Linked DNA regions of Homo sapiens: region 2 is linked to region 1. The links come from fine-mapping of genetic effects on gene expression. Tissue or cell type: whole blood. Region 1 holds a variant in brackets; the other region holds the start of a gene. All regions are shown on one strand. Distances are from middle to middle.

What was found. PIP is the estimated chance that this variant, and not a neighbour inherited with it, causes the effect.
Region 2: MCCC1 starts here. The variant in region 1 is fine-mapped to the expression of MCCC1 in whole blood (INTERVAL, PIP 0.93).

The regions. Positions count from the first base shown.
Region 1 is chr3:183,129,213-183,137,316 of GRCh38, forward strand. LAMP3 (lysosomal associated membrane protein 3) reads right to left here. Exons shown (of 6, transcript NM_014398.4): 5 at 6,505-6,675. Among named protein-coding and RNA genes, the nearest start is that of LAMP3, 29 kb to the right of the region's middle. The variant G/A (reference allele first, on the strand shown) is at 4,057.
Region 2 is chr3:183,094,943-183,103,046 of GRCh38, forward strand. It overlaps MCCC1 (methylcrotonyl-CoA carboxylase subunit 1), which reads right to left and starts at 4,554. Exons shown (of 19, transcript NM_020166.5): 1 at 4,410-4,554. The coding sequence starts at 4,498. RefSeq lists an enhancer at 4,480-4,619.

The sequences.
Region 1 (8,104 bases):
AAGGCCTAAAGACTTCTTCATGTTTGAAGTTTTATAGCTTGTTTCCAATATGTCCCAGTGTAAAACTTTTGGTATCAATTCTTTTTTGGGACATGCTCTTTTAATCCCAACTTCAATTATTTATCTCAAGGAAATTTCCTTAAATCTTCAAATATATCTTCATTCTATTTTTGAGGTCTATACGTCAGAGGCACCAATTATACTTATGTTGGATGGGCTGAATAGCTTCTATATCTAGTAGCTTCCCTGTAATGCTTTAATCATAAGGTTTATCTGTATTACCTGTAATGATCTCAGTCATTCTCTCTATGAAAATAATATAATTTCCTCCCTATTTATTCTGCCTCTGACTGTTTCTATACATTATGCAGTGTATTGCTTTGACACTCATCTTGTTTTCTTACTCTTTCATTTTAACATCTTATCTTTAAACTCTGATTACCTGGAATTCACATTAAGTGATTCTCAGCATCAAGCAATTGTCAGGAATTTCTTTCTGTTCCTTGAATTATGTTTTCTTTGTATTTTACTATTTTCATTTCTAACTTTCTGTTATGGACTAAATTGTATCCCCTCCCTGCCCCCAAATTTACATGGTGAAGCCCTAACTTCCAGGACCACAGAACATGTATTAGGACACAGGGTCTTTCAAGAAGTCAGTAAGTTAAAATGAGGTCATTAGGGTGGGCCTCTATCCAATATGAATGGTATCCTTACACAAAGAGGACATATGGATACAGACAGGTACAGAGGGAAGACCACGTGAAGACACAGGCCATCTACAGCCAAGGAGAGAAGTTTCAGAAAAACCAATGCTGCTGAGACCTTGACCTTGAATTTCTAGCCTCCAGAACTGTGAGAATATACATTTCTGTTATTTAAGGCATCCAGACTGTGGTATGTTACTAAGACAGTCTTAGCAAACTAATACACCCTCACTCCTTTTTTTTTTTTTTTTTTTTTTGAGACGGAGTTTCGCTCTGTCACCCAGGCTGGAGTACAGTGGTGCCATCTTGGCTCACTGCAAGCTCTGCCTCCCGGGTTGACGCCATTCTCCTGCCTCAGCCTCCCGAGTAGCTGGGACTACATGCGCCTGCCACCACGCCTGGCTAATTTTTTGTGTTTTTAGTAGAAACGGGGTTTCACTATGTTAGCTAGGATGGTCTCGATCTCCTGACCTCATGATCCGCCCGCCTCGGCCTCCCAAAGTGCTGGGATTACAGGCGTGAGCCACCGTGCCTGGCCTCACTCCTTTTCTTAATTTAATTTCAAACTATTCTTATTTTGCTGCAGTATTTTGGCACAGTGGCCATGCAGTTTGTTTTCATCTTGCTCATGCTTGAGCGTGGCAGTCGAGATACTCCATTTCCTATGATGCCGTTTGGGTGAATTATGGTCTTTCTTTCCATTGCATCTGAGATCAGTTAATGTTTCCCTTTGGGTTAGATATTTGGATTCTATTCTCTTTTTTGTAGCATGGAAACTAGCTGCAGCCTGGAGCGATCGTCTGCTTTGGGGTTTCTTCCCCAGTTCACCTCCGTCTGTCCCTCCCTTTACTCTTCCCAGTCTTCCTGGGAGCCATTTTCACTACCCTAGGTTGGAAAACGAAGAAAATAAAGCAACCCACTCTTTTTTTTTTCCTCCAGGTTTAGTAATGGAGGAGTTCACAGAATTTTTTTCCCTCTCATCACAGGCTTCTTAGGGTGAATGTGTGTGTGGTTAGGAGGGGAGGCAGGTGAGGAGCCCAGCTCCACTGCCCCCTCTGCTCTCCACCTGGAAAGTGGGCAGGACTGTGAGTAAATTACACATCCAAGCGTTTATTTACTGGCCATTCCAATGAAACCTTTGCTTTTTGTGGTTACCAGAATGCTAATTCAAATTAATTCTAAAAATAATCAGTACTGGGGTCGGGGGAATAGATAGCAGGAGTCCAAGCAGTGGCCATCATCCAAAAGAACTCACTGAAGAAGGTAGGGAGGAAAATTAAATTTAAGTGGTCATATCCCTCTATACTTGATTTTAAATTCTGCTTCTTGTTTCATCTGCTAGGGGAGAAATTTCCACATGCTAGAAGGTAAATCTTACATTAATCATTCTGCAGAAGAGTGAGTGGCTGGTGAATAAACACCTTGTCCTCTGCCCTACAGAACTTTCGAGTGCCCTTAACACTGGACACAGGGGAGCCTGGAGCAGGTGCCAGTTTGAAGGAGGAGGTGGAAGGAGATCACAGCTCTCCAAAGCCAAGCTCTTGCTGTTAAGCCCGAGTCTCTTTGGGGAACTCCCGGGTCCTCATATCAGATTGTCATCAACATCTGTTTTAAGAGGGAAACAGACATTTTCTGACACTCTGGATGTCTTCAGGGGCTCTTAGTGCTCTTTTGAAGCTGCGGTGTGCCCTCCCCACAGCCCCAATTCTAAGAAAACAAGGAGAGCAAAAATGCCTCCTGGGAGAGTCAGTACATTTCCTAAGTAGGCAGTAGTTTTAGAGTTGTTGCCAAATTTCATAAATGTCATGTTAAAAATAATGAATGGCACCTCTGGAAAATTTGGAAAAACAAGAAAACTTCCAGTCAGTAGAATCAATTAAGAACATACCTCTCCTTTTTCTCTGAATGAAAAACCCCCATCAATGTAATAGGAAACCATGAATAACATCCTAAGCCATATTTTAATAGAATTTTTCCCTCAGATATCAACCGTCCCCCATCAGGAATGTACTGCTTTTGGTGAATGTTTGCGTAAAAGGGAAGTGAGTGATCCTCCAGGCAGGTCTACCTCTTCCTGCTTGCCATTCCATATTGTCTCCCTGCTCTGTCTCCCTCCTGTCCTGCAATGGTCCAAATGGACACATTTACAAGAATAAAATAACATCAAAGAAAAGCCGACAAACCCGGAAAAAAGTAGCTAAGAAGGCAGACAACACATGAAATTGAAGCAACTGAAGGGCTAACATTTATTGAGCCCCTCCTTTTTTGCCATGATCTTTGATATGTGCTTTAAATTAAAAAAGTGAAATAGGCAGTTTCCTAATTTTTTAAACTGATAATACATTACAATAGAGTAGGATATGTTTTTTTAAAATAATAGCATATTAAGATCATCTATAATTTAAGTAAACAAAATTTGGGTAAAATCCAGGAGTTTAAAATCATTTTGTAATCAACTTTGAAATGCATTGGTTTTTTTAAAGTAATGTTTTTAAAAACTGAAAATCAGGACTCTTGAAAATGTATAAGAAAAATCAGTCAATTTGTAAACGTCTTCCCCACAATTCTCCCTCCGGGTTTTCGCTTTCTCCCTTCTCACAAGCACCCCACTCATGTCTCTGCCTATTGCCCCTAATTCCGGAAGCCAGCACTGGTATATTCAGGTATGGCAGAGGGCATCAAGCACACCTGGCATGGCCTCCCCAAAGCAACAGGAGGAAGTAGGGGAGGTGCTGTTTCCCAGCACTGCGGTAGCCCTTTGGTGGAAAGTTAGGTTTCCTAATCAGCTCAGGAGGGTGCAACAGGCAACGAGACAGGTCAATCCTTTCACTTCAGGCTGAATATGATGCTGGAATTCCCAAGACCTTAACTTTGCACATTTTGAAGAAAGTGGGGCTTTACATGCGTTCATATCCTCTACTGGGCCTCTTTCTGGCCACCAGACATGCGGTTAGCAAAATGACAAGCAGTCCTGTGATACTCAGGCCCATGGCCACAGGGATTTCTCTCCTGTTTCTGTCACTGAAGCATTCATCCGCTGTAATTGAAGTCAGAGTAACAAGTGTTACAGACTGGCCACAAATGCTGGGAAGTGGCACTGCCACATCTGCCTCAGCTTTGGAGAAAAGAAGACAGAGGGGAAGATGGAGCTGTTGGGGCTCAGACAACAGTGGGTGAAAACGAGAGGGAAAGGGTCAATACAGTGGATCTGACACGTGTAGCACTGGTAATTAGTTAGGGAGCTTATTAAATTGCAGATGCCCAGACACATGCCCAAGAAATGATAATTCAGTGGGTCTGAGCTGAGGCCAGGGGAATTCTGATGCTGCTTCCAGGCAGATCCAACTTT[G/A]AGAAAATGCTAGTTTGGCCTAGAGGGTTGTGATCAGAGTTATGTCTTGACTCTCAAACTAGAGTAATTCCCGGAGCCATATTCTCCAACTCTAGTAATAGTTTGAGACAGAGTCTCACTGTGTCACCCAGGCCAGAATGCAGTGACACAATCTCGGCTCACTGCAACCTCCGCCTCCTGATTTCAAGTGATTTTTATCCCTCAGCCTCCCGAGTAGCTGGGATTACAGGCATGTACCACCATGCCGGGCTAGTTTTTTGTATGTTTAGTAGAGATGGGGTTTTGCTATGTTGGCCAGGCTGGTCTCATAGTCCTGGCCTCAAGTGATCCACCTGCCTTGGCCTCCCAAAGTGCTGGGATTACAGGAGTCAGCCAACACGCCCAGTCCTAACTCTGTGTTTCTTACAGGGGCTGCTCAGATAGCTTGGGGCTCCTAAATCAGCATAATAAACAGCAAAAGAAAAGGACAGCAAAAACCCTAAAACTCAATAAACAAAACACAATGTTTGCAGGCTCCAGGATTTTAGGGAGGAGGAGATTTTAGGAGTCAGGAGTCTACTGTTTGGGATGACCATTATCTTTTACAAGGCTCAGCTTTGACACTTGCTGGATTCCTCTCCAGTTCTTCGATCCCCTGTTTAAAAATCGCCTATCACTCAAGACTTCTTTAGTCCACCCTCTCATCACCAATGCTGTCAGTCACAACTTCCTCTGGGCTCCCATAACCCTTTGCACATGTGTCTTTTAAACACCATATAGTATGGTAACTTGCTCCTCTTTTCCCCCTTCTCTTACTCTCTAGTAGAAAATCCTATTTACAGAATGACATACCTCTTCACATTTGAGCATCTTTAGTGAAATTTGAAGTGCAAAGACTAAGAAGATGGCGTTGAGTTGATACGGTGACAGTGGGAGAACAAGGGGAACATTTTGGAAGTGGAATTGTTAGGGCTTTGTGACTATTTGTATGAGAGGGTGCTGGAGGGAGAGGAGTTAAGGAGAACTCTGAAGTCTGTTGTTTGGAAAACTATCCAGTTAATGATGGTTTTAAGAAAAAAAAAAATGTAAAGACAAGCGAGCTTTTCTATGCATCCCTGTGAACACTGGCGTGCACTGCTGAAACGTTTTATTTCCTACCTCTGCCACTAAGAAGTTTCCCAGACCTGATCACTTCCTGCTTCATAGAGGTTCTGAAGGGGAAGAAGAGCAAGTGTGTACCTTTTTTTAAGATCACACGATTACAGAAGTTTTTCAAACCTTCATAATGATTGTAAAAGAAAGAAATAGTTTTCCAACACTAGCATTTTTGAGAGTGGATGACAAATGGGGCCAACCTCTACTGGCAAATTCTCATATGACTGTGGGACTCCGACAAAGCCTACAGAAACCAGGGGACCCAAGGCAAGCAATGGCCAGTCCTTCCTCTGCCAAATGCTTCCCACTGAGTACATGAGGAGAAGTTTTCTGCTACACACATCTGCAATTTCATGATGGAACCCAAAGCAAAATCAGATTCATATTGTAGACATTTAAAATACGGCTAAACTTCTAGCTAAATCTATTTTTGATAACTGGGAAGTACTCATCACATTTTTTAGTTATTATGAGAGGGATGTTTTAGAAATTGAAGTACATGACCCTCCTGGTCATATGTAGAAATCCTCGTAACACTGTTTTCCTGGAAGGGAGAAGAGGGCTTTTTCTGGCATATGACTCTCCTGGTCATAGGCAGAAATCCTTATAACAATGTGTTCCTGGAAGGGAGAAGAGGGCTTTTCTGGAAAGTCACCCTGGTCTGCTCTTGGCCCTTGCCCAGGGACCTGTTTTCCTCCAGGGCAGTCATCAGGCAAGCTCTGCCTGTGATGGTCAGAACTCAAGGCAGAAGTTAGAGGGAAACTAAAACTGACTATGAGGAAACACTGTTGGGTGTGACAGCTTATAACTGGAGACGAGGGGCTCCAACAGCTTGTAATTGAGATGAGGGGGTCCAACAGAGTTTCCTTCTATTTTGAATTGCTGCATCTTGCTCTTTTCCCTCTGCAGGTGGGGAAGAAACTATTCTGAAATCTTGATTTCAGACATTACTGATACTCAGGATCTTTAAAGTGTTCTCCAAACATATCTGAATTTACACCCAACAGGACATAAAGGGAAGTCGCAGGTGGTATTTCTGTTGTTTTGATTGAGCGCGTGAGTGTTTAAATGAGTAAGAATGTGCGTGAGTCGAAGAGAGTGCAACCCGCTGCGGGACAGCCGTGACTGGGTGGGTGCAGGTGCCTGATTCTGAGGTGGCCAGAGGAGCCTGGCCCTGTGAGCTATGTGGAATCACACCATCCCAGGAAGCTCATGAGATGCTTGCTCCTTCGACAGCTGCAGACAGAAAACACTTTGGATCTACCCTGGGGTCTCTAAAGTGTATGTTTGCAACCTGATCGACCCTTAACTTACCATTTCCAAAGTGGTCATCTTCAAAATCAAAGGCTTGAAGTTGGACATCGGTTGTTTTCACCTGCAGGTGGGCTGACAACTGGAGGCTCTGTTCACTCACGCACTTGAAGGAATGCCCGACTGCTGTCTGGAACATCACCACCGCATGTTTGATTCCTTGGTAAATTGTCTCTGAAAAGGTGACAGATAGATGCATAAGAGTCCTGAGATGTAACCGCTGAGCTCCAGCTGTGGCCGGGCTGCCTGTGCACAGCTAAATGGCCTTCCTTCCTTCCGAGGGGCTTTCTGGGGGTTCTGCCACCTTCTCCCCATGAAAAAACACCCTGGTGCGGTTTGGAGACTTTTTCAGCTGCTCTGTTTGGGGTATAAGGGAGACACCTCACATAAACTGGAATGCGCAAATAATGAAATGAGAACTTTTGAGAATGTGTTCTTTGGTTACTTTAAATCATTGGGGACAGAGTGGGTGGGAACTAGTCAGTACTTGGGGGCTACAGAGAGGCGCCTCCAAAATTTTAGAGATAAAAGAAGATTGCTTTCTGAGACTTAGAAAGTCACAGAACCCTTAATGAATCAGTGAAGGGACATGCAGTCAGCAAATGCTTATCACCAGGCTGAATGTATTAGATGAGCAGGGTCAAGAACTCATTAGGGGCCAGGCGCGGTGGCTCACGCCTGTAATCCCAGCACTTTGGGAGGCCGAGGCGGTCAGATCACCTGAGGTCGGGAGTTCGAGACCAGCCTGACCAACATGGAGAAACCCCATCTCTACTAAGAATACAAAATTAGCTGGGCGCGGTGGCACATGCCTGTAATCCCAGCTACTCGGGAGGCTGAGGCAGGAGAATCGCTTGAACCCAGGAGGTGGAGGTTGTGTTGAGCCGAGATTGTGCCATTGCACTCCAGCCTGGGCAACAACAGTGAAACTCCGTTTCAGAAAAAAAAAAAAAAAAACAACTCATTAGGAGGGGTTGTTGCATCCATCCACAGAAACAGAGAGAAGGGAGAAGCCCATCTCTTCCCTTCTGATCGCCACCTGGGGAGAGAAACCTGCCTAAGGACTGGCCCTCTCTTATGAAAGGTACACCCTGTTCAAGGAAGTGGAGGCTTCCAGGCAGATGAAGTTAAACATTTTAATCATTGAGGCCAGGCATGGTGGCACACACCTGTGGTCCCAAGTACTTGGGAGGCTGAGGTGGGAGGATCATTTGAGCCCAGGAGTTCGAGGTTGCAGTGAGCTATGATCATGCCACCACACTCCAGCCTGGGACACAGAGCAAGAATGTCTCTAAAATAAATAAATAAATAAGTAGGCCGGGCATGGTGGTTGGTGGTTCATGCCTGTAATCCCAGCACTTTGGGAGGCTGAGGCAGGCAGATCACTTGAGGTCTGGAGTTTGAGACCAGCCTGGCCAATGTGGTGAAACCCTGCCTCTACTAAAAATACAAAAATTAGCCAGGCATGGAGGTGGGCACATGCAATCCCAGCTACTCAGGGAGGCTGAGGCAGGAGAATCTCTTGAATCCGAGGGGTGGAGGTTGCAGTAAGGTGAGATCGTGCCACTGCACTCCAGCCTGGGCAACAGAGCCATGCTCAGTC
Region 2 (8,104 bases), 34 kb before region 1:
ACCCAGGACACACACTTAATGAAAACAGATGTTTTGTTAAAAATGACTCATTCTGCCCTGGCCAGGCACGGTGGCTCACACCTGTAATCCCAGCACTTTGGGAAGCCGAGGCAAGCAGATCATGAGGTCAGGAGATTGAGGCCATCCTGGCTAACACGGTGAAACCCTGTCTCTACTGAAAACACAAAAAATTAGCCGGGCGTCATGGCGGGCACCTGTAGTCCCAGCTACTCGGGAGGCTGAGGCAGGAGAATGGCGTGAACCCAGGAGGCAGAGCTTGCAGTGAGCCGAGACTGGGCCACTGCACTCCAGCCTGGGTGACAGAGCGAGACTCCGTCTCAAAAAAAAAAACAAAAACAAAAAGAACAAAACTCTTTTGGTTCTTTCAGTTGTATCCTATTTTATTAAAATATGCTGGTCAATCTACAGTTTGAAAAATACCAATCAAGTTTAAACATGAGACATGTTTAAAAAGTAAGACCAGAGAAATAAACGGAAGTTAAACAGGGGCAACAGAAAGAATGTTGGCTGTGGGACCAGAAAAGCTGCATTCTCATCCGAGTCCCTCCAATGACCAGCTTGCCCAGGGTCGAGTCACTTTACATCAGTGTTTCTCCAACTTTTTTTTCATTATTACTCTCCTAATGAGAAAACTTTTAAAAGATTTTATTCCTTGTAGGAAGGGTGGGGTAAGGTTGAGCTTTGGAAAGCCGTAAACCATGACAAAATCTAAGATTTCCTGGCTCTCCTAAGAATCAATTTCCACCCTTTAGCGGTGGTATCATCCCAGTTGAGGATGCAAGATTTAATAGCTTGGGCTTCAGTGTTCTCACACACGAGATGAGACTATAAGAGGTGATCTTGAAGGTACCTCTCAGATTTAAAAGTACTATACAATTCTATTCCAAGTCCTTGTATTTAAAAAAATGGAGAAATGGGGAGACAAAATGACTTGAGGTATTTTAATGAGGTAGAAGTCTCAACAATTTTTAAGTTTCGTGATACCTGTGTATAAAATAAAGTAACCAAGAGCTGACAGAAAACAGGCCAGATTCACTTTAGGAACAAAAAAGTATAACGTCTATTAAGTTTCAGCTAAAGAGGATAAGTGGGCTGGGTGCAGTGGCTCACGCCTGTAATCCTAGCAATTTGAGAGGCTGAGGTGGGGGGATTACCTGAGGTCAGGAGTTCGAGACCAGCCTGGCCAACATGGTGAAACCCCATCTCTACTAACAATACAAAAATTAGCCAGGTGTGGTGGTGCGCACCTGTAATCTCAGCTACTTGGGAGGCTGAGGCAGGAGTATCACTTGAACTTGGGAGGTGGAGGTTGCAGTGAGCCAAGATCGTGCCACTACATTCCAGCCTGGGTGACAGAGTGAGACTCCATCTCAAAAAAAAAAATAAATAAATAAATAAAAAGCATATGCAGGGAAACAAACAAATTACAGAAGCAATTCCACCTATCTTTTTGTCTATACCTGGAAGATGTGGTTATAAAGGACTAACTAACCATTTTAGATTATTCACAAAGCACAAGATAAAAGCACAGCGTGTGCATTAGAAACTATGTAACTAGGCAGTAGTATATACATATTATGTATATGACTATGTAGTTGAGCAGGACTAGTATTTCACTGGAGCGGAGATGCAGTAGACATCTACACATCTATATGCGTCTATACACTCATTGCCCTACAATGCACACTCAGATGCTGCCATCCATGAGGAGCTGCTGGGAAGACCCACAGCTTTGGCAGGAGAGTTCCGTGAGCTAGCTTCCTCACGAGGCTGCTGCTTTCCCACACCTTTCCATTTCAGCTGATGTTACCTTCTTGATCCTGAAGGAGGGGGATCATCTTTCCTGATCTTTATGAGGTATTTTCTAGCTCATAGCATCGTCTTCCCTTTACATTCTTCAGATAGGCTTCTGATAAGTTTCAAGGCCTATTCTGGGCAGATGTATCTATTAAATGGTTGCTTGTTGGTAAAGCTAGCTTAAGACTGATTCGGTTTCAAGGCTACTGTTGACCTAAAGCTTTCTTTTGCAATCTTCTAGTGAAGACAGAAGAAGGGAGAGAGGGAAAAAGAGGGAGAAAGAGACAGAGATCCCACTTAACTGTAATCCACTATCCCAACAATGTTCTGATCATCTATTCCATTTTTCACAATTATCTAAGCTGCAACTTAAAAGCAATGGCTTAAACAAGATTAAGAAGCTGCTTCCCCGGAGCTTGCAGTGAGCCGAGATTGCGCCACTGCAGTCCGCAGTCCGGCCTGGGCGACAGAGCGAGACTCCGTCTCAAAAAAAAAAAAAGAAGCTGCTTCCCTGATTCAAGGTAGCTCTATACCAGCTTATTGTCATGTCTATAATTCTGCCACCAGAGATTATTTTCTGTGAGCTACTAAAGATTCATAACATAAAAATAATGTAAACTATCTGTGCTGTTAAGATTTTTTTGTTTTTGTTTTATTTGAGATGGGATGTCACCCAGGATGGAGTACAGTGGTGTGATCATGGCTCACTACGGCCTGGAACCCCTGGACTCAGGCCGTCCTCGCCCTCCTCATCCTCCCAAGTAGCTGTGACTACAAGTGTGTGCCACTACGCCTGGCTAATTTTTTAATGTTTTGTAGAGATGAAGCCTCACTGTGTTGCCCAGGCTGGTCTTGAACTCTTGAACTCAAGCAATCCTCCCACCTTGGATCCCACAGTGCTGAGAAACTGCTGAAAATACAGGCATGAACCAAGTCTCCTGGCAAAGAGTTTTACTTCTATAAGCCATTAACAACTCTAACACTCTCCAGAGTGACATACTTGAGGATAGTTCTTTAGACAATAGCTAAGCTTTGAAAGGGAAGACAGGAAATGGGTCTATGGTACTATCCTGAAGAGCCCTGGAGGCCTAAGAAAAGAAAAACCAGAAGAACAAGAAGAACATTAACATTACTTACACCAACTTTTTTTTTTATTTTTTTATTTTTTATTTGAGACGGAGTCTTACTCTGTCGCCCAGGCTGGAGTGCAGTGGCGTGATCTTAGCTCACTGCAAGCTCCGCCTCCTGGGTTCACACCATTCTCCTGCCTCAGCCTCCCGAGTAGCTGGGACTAACAGGCGGGACTATAGGCGCGTGTCACCACGCCCGGCTAAATTTTTTGTATTTTTTAGTACAGACGGGGTTTCACCGTGTTATCCAGGTTGGTCTCGATCTCCTGACCTCGTGATCTGCCCGCCTCGGCGTCCCAAAGTGCTGCGATTACAGGCGTGAGCTACCGCGCCCCGCCAACTTCCAACAACTTTCTTATGTTTCTCTGGGGCACTCCTACAATTAAGTAACTAAAAAGGGCATCTACAATATTTCTGGAAAATAAAAGCAAGCAAACGTTCATATAAATGGTTGAGTTTGCATTTATAGACTGATCTTATGTACCAGATTGTGCTTAAACCTCATTCCATGAATTAATTCATTTAGTTTTCACAACCCAAGGTACTCGTATCATCTCCAAGGTGAGGAAATTAAAGAAGAAATATTAAGTAACTTACCCAAAGTCACACACCTAGTGAGTAGCTAACTAAGACCTCAGCCTTGACTGCAGAGTCTGTGCCCTTGAACACTAAACTGTCAATCTTTCCAGAATGATGAAGGATGATAACGATGAAGCAAAAGAAGACAAAGAAGCAAAGCTATCTACAAGCCTGAGGGTTTTTTCACTGCCAGAGTTATTGCCACCAAAGCTTAGAGCTCAAAATTTGAAACAGAGCTGGAGTCAGGTGAGCTAGACTGAGTCATCTGATAGCGTTGTTCAAACTTGGGTACAAGAGTTTTTGACAAAATAATTTCCCAGCTCTGTGGAAGGTACATTTGCTCTTCTTGACAACTTCACTCTTCTAACAATGAGAAGGAACTCCAGGAGTCTTTCTCTGAACTGGACACCTGATGGGGCACAGCTGAACTGAAAAATGGCTTTGAGGGCATCCCGGCCCCATTTCTTACTAGCTGTGTTTCGTTGAGGAAGTCGTTGATCCCTTTGGGCTTCCCCGGAACCGGATTATAACAACGCTCCCACCTAAGGGGTGCTGCGAAAGCCCGATGTAAACGGCTACGAGCTGCAGCGACGGCGAGGGGAGCCTGGAGGATGGCGGGCCCAGTCCTCAGAAATGGAAAAACAGAAGCCAAAGGCGCGCTGAAGCGTGGATGTGCGGAAGCGGGGAGAAAGGGAAGGGCTGGTGGGGATGTCTTCCTCCCGACGCCGTGACTGCCGGCAGAACCCCTCCGAAAGTGCCTGGGGTTTTCCTACCGTCCTCCCCACACCGACCCTGGGTTCCGCCGCACCTCCCACCGCTCACGCGGGTCCGTGCACCCCTCGCTCCCGCCTCTGCCCACTGAGCCATGGCCCCTCCACCCACCTCGGCGGCAGGAGCAGGCTCGGGAGACGATGCCACCGGTTCCTCTCCGCCGCCACCAGCAGCACCGACACCGCAGAGGCCGCCGCCATGTCCCTGGAGCCCGGCCACTCCGTGACTCCCCAGTACAGAGGCAGCTGCGTCCCACACGCCAAACCCGTTCCTCCACTACGAAGCCTCGTGACCCCCGCCGGCCACCGTCGGAGCCTGAGCCTACCTTTGGGCTGATCCAAGAATGTGAGGGCGTCTCCACGAACACCAATCAAAGACCAGAGCCCGGCTTCAGTAGCGACGATTGGGCAGTCTGGCCACGTGCTCGTGGGGGTGTGGCCTTTGTTTCTGCGTCCCCTGGGGCCTGCTCTGACTAAGGCAAGGGTTTTCTCCATCCTCCCCCTCTTGGTTGCCTGTCACTGTTTCTTCCTGCATCCCGTGGGGTTTCTTCGCTCTCGTCACCTTCTGGGAGAAGAACCCTGGGGAAGAAGCCAAATGCGGATGGACAGCAGGATACACAATTCTCTAGTGCTCTCAGGGATGAAAAAATAAATAAGCTAAAGTGAAAATCTTTAAACCACCTGAGCTTAAAACAGGTATTCTAACTGACTATTGGGAAAAAGAGGAAGTCAAAGAGCAAACTGAGGAACATCTAGAGAATAAAGAAACTGTAAACACTACATGTAGATGCTTCATGAGGAAAGCAGGAGGGAGAAATTAGGGAAGATAAAGGAATAAATAAATGAATTCAGGAAACCAGTGTCAAAGGACTAATAAACCCACAGGTTCACAAAAAATAAAATAGTTATCTAATCAGAAATAGAGAAAAATGCACATTTGACATGATTTAAAAAACAAGCAGGGGAAAATCACAGACACAGGAAACAAATTATAGATTTGTAAGATGCTAATTTTGCTTAACTTCAAGTGAACTTAAAACTCTGGATGAAATGGATGATGTTACAAGAAAATACAATTTATCAAAATAGATCCTGGAAGAGACAAAATTTAAGCAAACCGTTACCACAGAAAAAATAGAGAAGTTTATCAAAGAACTATCCTTGCTACCACCATGGCCCACTTTCACCTTCACCTTCACCCCTAAAAGTTACAAAAGCCCTCCATGTCTTGCAAGAAAATTCCACACAAATGAGTAATTGACTCAAATGCTATTAATTCTGTCCCAGAGCACAAAAAAGATGGAAGTCTTCCAAACTCTTTTTAAAAAGTAAACATAACTTTGATACCAAAATCAACAAAGATATCACGCACACACACACGACAGACCAATTTCACATGTAAGTATCAGTGGAAAAATTCTAAATAAAATATTAACTACGCTGGGTGCTGTGGCTCATGTCTTGTAACCCCCCATTGAGATGTGACAGCGTGCTGGCAGTCCTCAGAACCCTCGCTTGCTCTCGGCACCTCCCCTGCCTGGGCTCCCACTTTGGTGGCATTTGAGGAGCCCTTCAGTCCCCCACTGCACTGTGGGAGCCCCTTTCTGGGCTGGCCAAGGCCGGAGCCCACTCCCTCAGCTTGCAGGGAGGTGTGGAGGGAGAGACACGAGCGGGAACTGGGGCTGTGTGCGGCACTTGCGGGCCAGCTGGAGTTCCGGGTGGGCGTGGGCTTGGTGGGCCCCGCACTCGGAACAGCCAGCCAGCCCTGCTGACCCCGGGCAATGGGGGACTTAGCACCCGGGCCAGTGGCTGCGGAGGGTGTACTGAGTCCCCCAGCAGTGCTGGCCCACCGGCGCTGCGCTCGATTTCTCGCCGGGCCTTGGCTGCCTTCCCACGGGGCAGGGCTCGGGACCTGCAGCCCGCCATGCCTGAACCTCCCACCCACTCCATGGGCTCCTGTGCGGCCCAAGCCTCCCCGATGAGCGCCACCCCCTGCTCCACGGCGCCCAGTCCCATCGACCACCCAAGAGCTGAGGAATGCGAGCGCACGGCGGCGCAGGACTGGCAGGCAGCTCCACCTGCAGCCCCGGTGCGGGATCCACTAGGTGAAGCCAGCTGGGCTCCTGAGTCTGGTGGGGACGTGGAGAGTCTTTATATCTAGCTCAGGGATTGTAAATACACCAGTCAGCACCCTGTGTTTAGCTCAAGGTTTGTGAATGCACCAATCGACACTCTGTATCTAGCTGCTCTGGTGGGGCCTTGGAGAACCTGTGTGTCGAAACTCTGTATCTAACTAATCTGATGGGGACGTGGAGAACCTTTGTATCTAGCTCAGGGATTGTAAACGCACCAATCAGCACCCTGACAAAACAGGCCACTGGGCTCTACCAATCAGCAGGATGTGGGTGGGGCCAGATAAGAGAATAAAAGCAGGCTGCCCAAACCAGCATTGGCAACCTGCTCGGGTCCCATTCCACGCTGTGGAAGCTTTGTTCTTTCGCTCTTTGCAATAAATCTTGCTACTGCTCACTCTTTGGGTCCACGCTGCTTTTATGAGCTGTAACACTTATCACGAAGATCTGCAGCTTCACTCCTGAGCCCAGCGAGACCACGAGCCCACCGGGAGGAACGAACAACTCCGGACACGCTGCCTTAAGAGCTGTAACACTCACCGCGAAGGTCTGCAGCTTCACTCCTGAGCCAGTGAGACCACGAACCCACCAGAAGGAAGAAACTCCGAACACATCTGAACATCAGAAGGGACAGACTCCAGACGCGCCGCCTTAAGAGCTGTAACACTCACCGCGAGGGTGTGCAGCTTCATTCTTGAAGTCAGTGAGACCAAGAACCCACCAATTTCGGACACGCCATCACTTTGGGAGGCTGAGGTGGGCCTCCCAAACTGCTTAAGCCTAGGAGTTTGAGACCAGCCTGGGCAATATAGTGAGACCCGCATCTGCACAAACATTTTTTTAAAAAAACTGGGCGTAATGATGCACACTTGTAGTCCCAGCTACTCGGGAGACTGAGGCAGGATCACTTGAGCCCAGGAGTTTGAAGCTGCAATGAGCTCTTATCATGCCACTATACTCCAGCCTGGGTAACAGAGTGAGAGAATGTCTCCAAAAAAGAAGCAAAAAAAATAACTGAAGTATCCTGTAGCATGTGAAAAGAATAACACACTGTAAATAAGCAAGGTTTATTCCAGAAGTATAAGGATGATTCACTATTAAGAAATCAATTAATAAAATGAATATTAAGAGTTTAAAAGAGAAAAACTTATATTCACAGAGGCTTAATAGGTCATTGACAAAATCTGACCTTCATTCTAGATTTTAAAACTCAGTAATTCAAGAAGTGATTGGGACCAGTGATTAGCCCTCTGGAAAAAAAAGCTGGATCCCTGCTTACTTCTTACACCTAACACCAAAATATTCCAAGTAGATGAAAGATTAAATATAAAAGATGAAAGCATAAAAGTTCTAGAAGACATTATGGGAGGTCTTAGAGCAGAGAAAGTTTTTTTTTTTTTTTTTTTTTTTTTTTTTTTTTTTTTTTTTTTTTTGAGACGAAGTCTCTCTCTGTTGCCCAGGCTAGAGTGCAATGGCATGATCTCGGCTCACTGCAACCTCCACCTCCCAAGTTCAAATGATTCTCATGGCTCAGCCTCCCGAATAGCTAGGATTACAGGCATCCACTACTGCACCTAGCTCATTTTTTGTATTTTTAGTAGAGACGAGGTTTTGTGTCTGGAATTGGTGGGTTCTTGGTCTCACTGACTTCAAGAATGAAACCGCAGATCCTCGC